Linked DNA regions of Homo sapiens. The protein of the gene in region 1 interacts with the protein of each later gene in a pairwise test. Each region holds a gene or a part of one and is shown on either strand. Other genes may lie near its edges.

Region 1 (4,329 bases):
AACTCTGAAAACTCATTAGTTGAGGATAACTACGCCTACCAACAGAATGCAGAGGTGCAAGACTGAGCTACTGGTGCCTGAGTTCTCAGCGGGCCAGAAGGAAGGACGGTAGGGTGGAAGGGCTGGAGTCTCAGTTCTGGGAAGTCTCCCTCTTATCTCGCAGAATGCCTGTCCCTGGATAAAGATCATTAGTTTGAGTTTTTCCAAGATGATTCTAGGAAGCTCCTGCTGGTAACTAAGTCACCCATCCTGGGGTGGGATCCAGAGATTTAGATTTTTTATAAGCTTTCCTGCCACCGAAACGGGTGTTTGGGACCTCACGAGGCCCTGTTCATTCTTCGTCGCTGCGCTCCCCACTCTGTACTGGATGCATTTACTGACGTTGTTGTCTCCGTCCCCAGAGTATGAACCCCCAAGGTGACTCATGCAGCTGTGGGTGCCCGGCATACAGCATGGTGACTGGAATGGATGAGCACCCAATAAACATTTGTTGCAGGAATGCAGGAGGACGGGCAGGCCAGCAAGCAGGCTGCCTGGTTTTTCCCACATGGGCTTTTCTGGGAAAGAAGAGCTTCTATTTTTGGAAAGGGCTGCTATGATTGAGAAAAGTTCATGGCAGCAAAAAAAGGACAGACGTCGGGAGGGAAACACTCCTAGTTCTCCCAGACAACACATTTTTTAAAAAGACTCCTTCATCTCTTTAATAATAACGGTAACGACAATGACAATGATGATTACTTATGAGTGCGGCTAGTGCCAGCCACTGTGTTGTCACTGGGCGAGTAATGATCTCATTGGATCTTCACGGTGGGCGTGCGGGGTGGACAGCCTCACACCCCCATTTTACAGATGATGAAAAGGAGGTGCAGGGAGTGGTGCAGCTGCTTCAGGCGTACACAGATAGGAAGTGACAAGGCTGGGACTCTGCAGCCTGAGTGTGTCATCACGACCCACCCGCTGCTCTGCTCTCATAGGTATGACAGCACAGCTCTGGAGCAAATGCCACGCACATTTGCAAGGTGCCCATTTCCATGCAGCAAAAATAAGTCAATAAGTTATTGACTTACAGAAAAGCAAAGGGCCTCTCAATAAAGAGGTCATTGTACACCTCTCCAAACAGGCGATTTTCTTTCTCATTTTTATTCCCCTGCTGTGTGCTGAAGGTCACTGGCTACAAGCCGGTGAAGTCGCGGAATGGAATCCTTGGCCCGAAAACCCAAAAATGGGAGGGGCAGAGGAGGTGGGGACAGAGCGGGAGGAGGTGGAGGCGAAGCAATTCTACAACCCGGGGAGGTCTGGCCTGCTTTTCCTCCCTGAACTGGCCCAATGACTGGCTCCCTCACGCTGACCACTCCTCTGGGCTGGCCTCCTGCACTCGCGCTAACAGCCCAGGCTCCAGGGACAGCCTGCGTTCCTGGGCTGGCTGGGTGCAGCTCTCTTTTCAGGAGAGAAAGCTCTCTTGGAGGAGCTGGAAAGGTGGGTGCTAAGTTGAGGTTCATTTTGTTCTTCTCGGAGTGTGCTTATTGAGTCTGAAGCTGGGTTGGGGCAACGGGCCTCTTCTTGGGAACAAATTGGATCATCTTCTTGGGAAGGAAATGTACTTTCCCTGGCTGCTCTGAGGGGTTAGTGGGGAGGTGGAGTGAGCGGGGAGGAAGGCAAGGAGGGGAGGAAGAAACCGTTCCTCCTGTGGATCTGCAAAGACCAGTCCAAGAGGATTTTAGTGTTAGGAAAAGGAATCTGGAGTGACGAGAAAGGGGGCCTTTCTAGATGTTGCATGGCTTTGGTGTCGGGAGCCACTTATGGGACAGCAGGTACTCTAAAAAGCCACCTCCTTAGGAAAGCAGAGAGGCCCTGGCCAGCTCAGGCTCCCAGCAAGAGCTCCTTCTAGGAGACAGCTGAGGGATGAAACACACCCAAGGCTCAAGAGGGGCAGGTTCTTCCCAGATACAGACCCAGGAAGGAGATAAAGGCTTGGTGCCTCTATTTGGTTCAGGATAAGGGCCCCTGTCCTCTTTCTCTGATAACACTGTCCTCTTTCTCTGATAACACCGTCCTCCCTTCCAGATCCACGTACAAAGGAGGCCCTTAAAAAGGCACTTGGTCATTCACAGCTCAAACTGAGCAAGAGGCTGTGGGAGAAGAATCAAGTTGGTCCCGAGGGGAAGAGGTGTCAAAGGCTTAAGAAACAAGAAGTCAGAGTTTACCTGGGTTTGAGGGAGAATTTTCTTTCCCCCTTTTCCTCCTCCTCCTCCTTCTTCTCTTTTTTTTTTTTTTTTTTTTTTTTTTGAGACATGGTCTCATTCTGTCACCCAGCACCCAGGCTGGAATGTAGTGGCACGATCACTATCACGGCTCACTACAGCCTCTACCTCCCGGGCTCAAGCGATCCTCCTACCTCAACCTCCTGAGTAACTGGGACTACAGGCACATGCCACCACACCCAGCTATTTTTTTTTTTTTTTTTTGCTAGAGATGGGGGTCTCTACCAGGTTGGTCTCATACTCTTGTACTCAAATGATTCTCCTGTCTCATCCTCCCAAAGGGGTGGGATTACAGGCATAAGCCACCATGCCTGGCTCTTCTTTTGGTTTCAGAGAAAAACATCTCCTTAAAATGTTTATTTCCCAAGGATTCTTGAAAAAGAAAGCTCACTGACACACCCAAAACAATCTGGTTTTGCTCTGTGCTTTTAGGGAGAACTTTCTAAGCAGCAGAGCCCTTCTGAGTGGCAGGGCTGTCTTAGGAGGAAGGTGTCTTTGATGATGGGGAACTTCATGTCCAGGTCTGGCAGGAGAGTTACCCCACTTTCCTGCCTACTCCCTGGGGCTTTGGGGTAGTAGTACCACATTGGGCCATGTCATTTAGGTGAGTCCTTCAACATCACTTTCTCTGCTTCTCCCTCTTTCTGGATCCTCCTTCTTGGAGCCTTTCAAGGGGACCTCCTCTCACAGTGTCCATAGCATCTCTTAGCTAATGGTCCTTAAAATCTCTACCAGCAGCTCTCTCTGATAGCTAAGAGCTGCCATTTACTGGGAACTTTCTATGTACTGGGCTCTGTGCTAAGTGCCCTAGATGAGAGATGTGCAGTGTGGTGCCTAAACCTTGGGCTTGGAGCAGACACACACTTTCAAATCCTGCCTTCAGCTCCTTAGTGAACATGTCACCTTGGGCGGGACACACGCCTCTCTGTGCCTCAGTTTCCTACACTTTAGAATGGGGATAACACTGAATAATGTTCTTGTGAGGATGCAGGGAATTAACCCACGCACAGTACTTATAATAGTGTCTGGCGCCTGTGTTCGATAAGTTTTAGCAATTCTAATCATCTCTTTTAAGCCTCGCAGCAAGCCTCTAAGGTAAGTCTGTATTAGTATCCCTATTTACAGATGAGAAAACTGAGGTTCACAGGGGATGAGACAGTGTACAGTCTGCAGTCCAGCAATTACTCTGCTACTCAGCAATAAAAATAGTAACAGCTAACCCTTAGACTAAGTGGCAGAGTCAGGCTTTAGATTCATGAGGTGAGTTCTGGAATCCATCCCTTTAATAACCACACTAAATTGCCTTTCTGAAATGGTTATATAAAGCATATCTACCCAATCTTGGAGTTTTTTAAATGGCACCTAGTTTGGTGCTGGAAATGCAGTTGACCTTCAAAGCAATTCTTTGGAGGCAGCATCAATCCCTCTGGAAATACCTCGGTGGCATGGCTGGCCTTATTCTACAGGTAAGGAACTTGAAGCTAAGCATCAGTAACCCCGTGAAGTCACAGTTAGTATAGGTTGGAATTGGGATTCAAATCTGTACCTGACTTTATAATTCCTAGCTGGGCCCCAGAATCTTTGATAGAGGTGTCTTCTTTCTTTTCTTTTCTTTCTTTCCTCTTTCTTTCCCTTCCTTCCTCTCTCTCTGTCTTTCTTCTCTCCTTTCTTTCTCACAGAATCAAAATCTCTTGGGGTGGGGCCTGGGCATCTGATTTTTAAAAACCAGACATCTGATGTGCAGTCAACACTGAGAACCCCTGCCAGCTTCATCTCCTCTTCTAAGTGCCAGACCCAAGTTTCCGACTGTCTGCCCACCTGTCTTCCCACCTGGGCACCCGCCAGCGTCTCACCCTCAGGAGACTCCAGCTGAACTAATCCTCTCTCCCTGCTTTTCCAGAACAGGTCCCACCCTCCCTCCACTCAGTCTCTCCTGCTGGGAACCCTGGTCATCTGCACTGTGCCTTCATCTTCCATCCTGCCAGTGCTGCCCGGTGTGTCTCTTAAACCCATGCCTCCTCTGTGTGCACCACCTGCACTTTGGTAAAAGCCTTCATTTCCTGCTTGG
Region 2 (3,087 bases), on another chromosome or scaffold:
TTTGGGATTATCATACCTAGTGGATTATACTATTTAAAGATAGATCATTTGTTAAGAATATGGGGTAGGCTGGGTGCAGTGGTCACAGCTGTAATTCCAGCACTTCGGGAGGCTAAGGTGGGCAGATCGCTTGAACCCAGGAGTTAAAGGCCAGCCTGGGCAACATGGTGAAACCCTGTCTCTACAAAAAAAAAAAAAAGGAAAAATTAGCTGGGCATGTGGTGTGTGCCTGTAGTCCTAGCTACTCAGAAAGTTGAAGTGGGAGGATCCCTTGAGCCCTGGGAAGTTGAGGCTGCAGTGAGCCGAGATTGTGCCACTGTACTCCAACCTGAGTGATGGGACTGAGACCCTGTATCAAAAAAAAAAAAAAAAAAAAGGTGCAAAATGGTTACCTGAAATTCTAGAAATGAAAATTTCTGTAAGTTTAACAGGAAAGTTGTTGAAAAAGAAAGTTGGTTTGTTTGACTTTTTTTTTTTTTTTTTTTTTTTTTTGAGATAGGGTTTAACTCTGTTACCCAGGCTGGAGTGCAGTGGTGTGATCTCTGCTTACTGCAACCTCCACCTCCCAGGCTCAAGCAATCCTCCTACCTCAGCCTCCTGAGTAGCTGGGACTACAGGTACACACAACCATGCCTGGCTAAATTTTGTATTTTTAGTAGAGACTGGGTTTCAGCATGTTGCCCAGGCTGGTCTCAAACTCCTGAGCTCAAGTGATCTGCCTGCCTCTGCCTCCCAAAGTGCTGGGATTGCAAGCTTGGACAACCATGCCTGGCCTGTTTTGCATTTTTGAAAGAAGAAAGTTTTAGAGTGTTAAAACCTCTCATACCTAAAGTAATAGTTTTTAGAAAACTATAGTATACATATGAATTTAGATTCCAATGTATGACTTTCTTTAAATTATATTAACAAAAATTAAGCTATTGGGTAATAGTATGTGACCCAGAATGTAAGAAAAGTGATTTTTTAAGTCTGCAGAGAAGCCAAAAGATATCATAAAAATCCATGTACTCTACGCCAGGCGCGGTGGCTTATGCCTGTAATCCCAGTACTTTGGGTGGCTGAGGCAGGTAGATCACAAGGCCAGGAGTTTGAGACCGGCCTGGCCAACATGGTGAAACTAAAAATACAAAAATTAGCTGGGTGCGGTGGCAAGCGCCTTTAGTCCCAGCCACTCAGGAGGCTGAGGCAGGAGATTCCCTTGAACCCAGGAGACAGAGGTTGCATTGAGCTGAGATCATGCAACTGCACTCCAGCCTGGGCGACAGAATGAGACTGCATCTCAAAAAAAAAAAAAAAAAAAATCCATGTACTCCAAAGGGACTCTCCAAGGCTCTCATCAAAATACTTTTCATTCTTGTTCTAATATAATTTTAATACTCTTGGCTGAGGCCGGTGGATCACTTGAGCCCAGGAGTTCCAGACTAGCCTGGGCAAATGGCAAAACCCTGTCTTTACAAAAAATACAAAATGTAGCCTGGTGTGGTGGCGTGCACCTGTGGTCCCAGCTACCTGGGAGGTTGAGGTGGGAGGATTACTTGAGGCCGGGAGGTTGAGACTGCAAGTGAGCCATGATAATACCACTACACTTGAGCCTGGCCAACAGAGCAAGATTCTGTCTCAGAAAAACAAACAAACAAACAAACAAAAAAACCTCTTCAGCAGTCTCATTTCAAAACCTGTAATTTGCAGCAAAATTAGAAAAGAAGGATTGCTATTGGCAGGTAAATTGACAAGAAGGCAAAGTGATCACAACTCATAGCCAAGAAAGAGCCAGAAAAATCTGTAATAGCCAAATAAATCAAACTCCATAGCACTATTTGGAGTAATTTAATACAGCCACTCAAAGAGGCTTTGAGGATTTTAGTAACAGTAATCTTTTTTTTCTGTTTAGTTAAGAAAAGGTTAAACTTTGGTTGTTATACCCCATTTAGGAAGCCAAGAGGAAGCTACTTTTGCAGAGACGTAAAGAAATTCACTAAAATGTTAAATGTTGGGATTATGAGTGACTTTTATTTTTCTGTCTTTTATAATTTTAAAAATACTAATATTGGATACTTTTATAATTTAGAAAAAAAAATTGATGTTTAAAAGCCTGAAAATGTGTACAGAAATGTTTCTACCAAAGCTTTAATTTAAAGGACTAAATATCATCTATATAGAAATAATATATTTAGGCTGGGCACTGTGGCTCACGCCTGTAATCCCAGCACTTTAGGAGGCCGAGGTGGGCAGATCACCTGAGGTGAAGAGTTTGAGACCAGCCTGGCCAACATGGTAAAACCCCGTCTCTACTAAAAATACAGAAATTAGCCAGGCATGGTGACAGGTGCCTGTAGTGCCAGCTACTTGGGAGGCTGAGGTAGGAGAATCGCTTGATCCTGGGAGACAGAGGTTGCAGTGAGCCAAGATCGCACCACTGCACTCCAGCCTAGGCAACGGAGTGAGAGTCGGTCTCAAAAAAAAAAAAAAGACTACATTTATATAAAAATATTAACTCCTCAATATTTGTGCGTTCCTAAAGTTTTACTAGTTATGTCTATCTGGCTCTATTTCTGTTTGTCTGTCATCTATGTCTATTTTCTAAAGATTTGTTAAAATTAATCTTGCAAAATAGTTCCACATACTTTTCACTCTTTAGCCAAGCAACTAAGAAATAGAACACTATTTGTACTAGGTGTAAAATAACAAGCAGGAAACTACCTTAAGGCTATGAAAAACTGAGACATTAATTGGATTTCTGCAGTGATTTAAAAAATAATATGTTGATACAAAATTATTTTACTTACAGATGATGAAGAACGAGAGCTTCAAATGGATCCTGCAGACTATGGAAAGCAACATTTCAATGATGTCCTTTAAGTCCTAAAGGAATGCTTCAGAAAACCTAAAGTGCTGTAAAATGAAATCATTCTACTTTGTCCTTTCTGACTTTTGTTGTAAAGACGAATTGTATCAGTTGTAAAGATACATTGAGATAGAATTAAGGAAAAACTTTAATGAAGGAATGTACCCATGTACATATGTGAACTTTTTCATATTGTATTATCAAGGTATAGACTTTTTTGGTTATGATACAGTTAAGCCAAA

The links.
Region 2: the proteins of SOD3 (region 1) and GOLM2 interact in a two-hybrid assay, tested with the Homo sapiens proteins (one large-scale study listed by BioGRID).

What each region holds. Positions count from the first base shown.
Region 1 is NC_000004.12:24,794,176-24,798,504, forward strand, and holds the start of SOD3 (extracellular superoxide dismutase [Cu-Zn] preproprotein), read left to right. Parts: upstream 1-1,397; 5' UTR 1,398-1,476; intron 1,477-4,329. UniProt on the Homo sapiens protein: Protect the extracellular space from toxic effect of reactive oxygen intermediates by converting superoxide radicals into hydrogen peroxide and oxygen.
Region 2 is NC_000015.10:44,410,548-44,413,634, forward strand, and holds part of GOLM2 (protein GOLM2), read left to right. Parts: intron 1-2,788; coding exon 2,789-2,859; 3' UTR 2,860-3,087.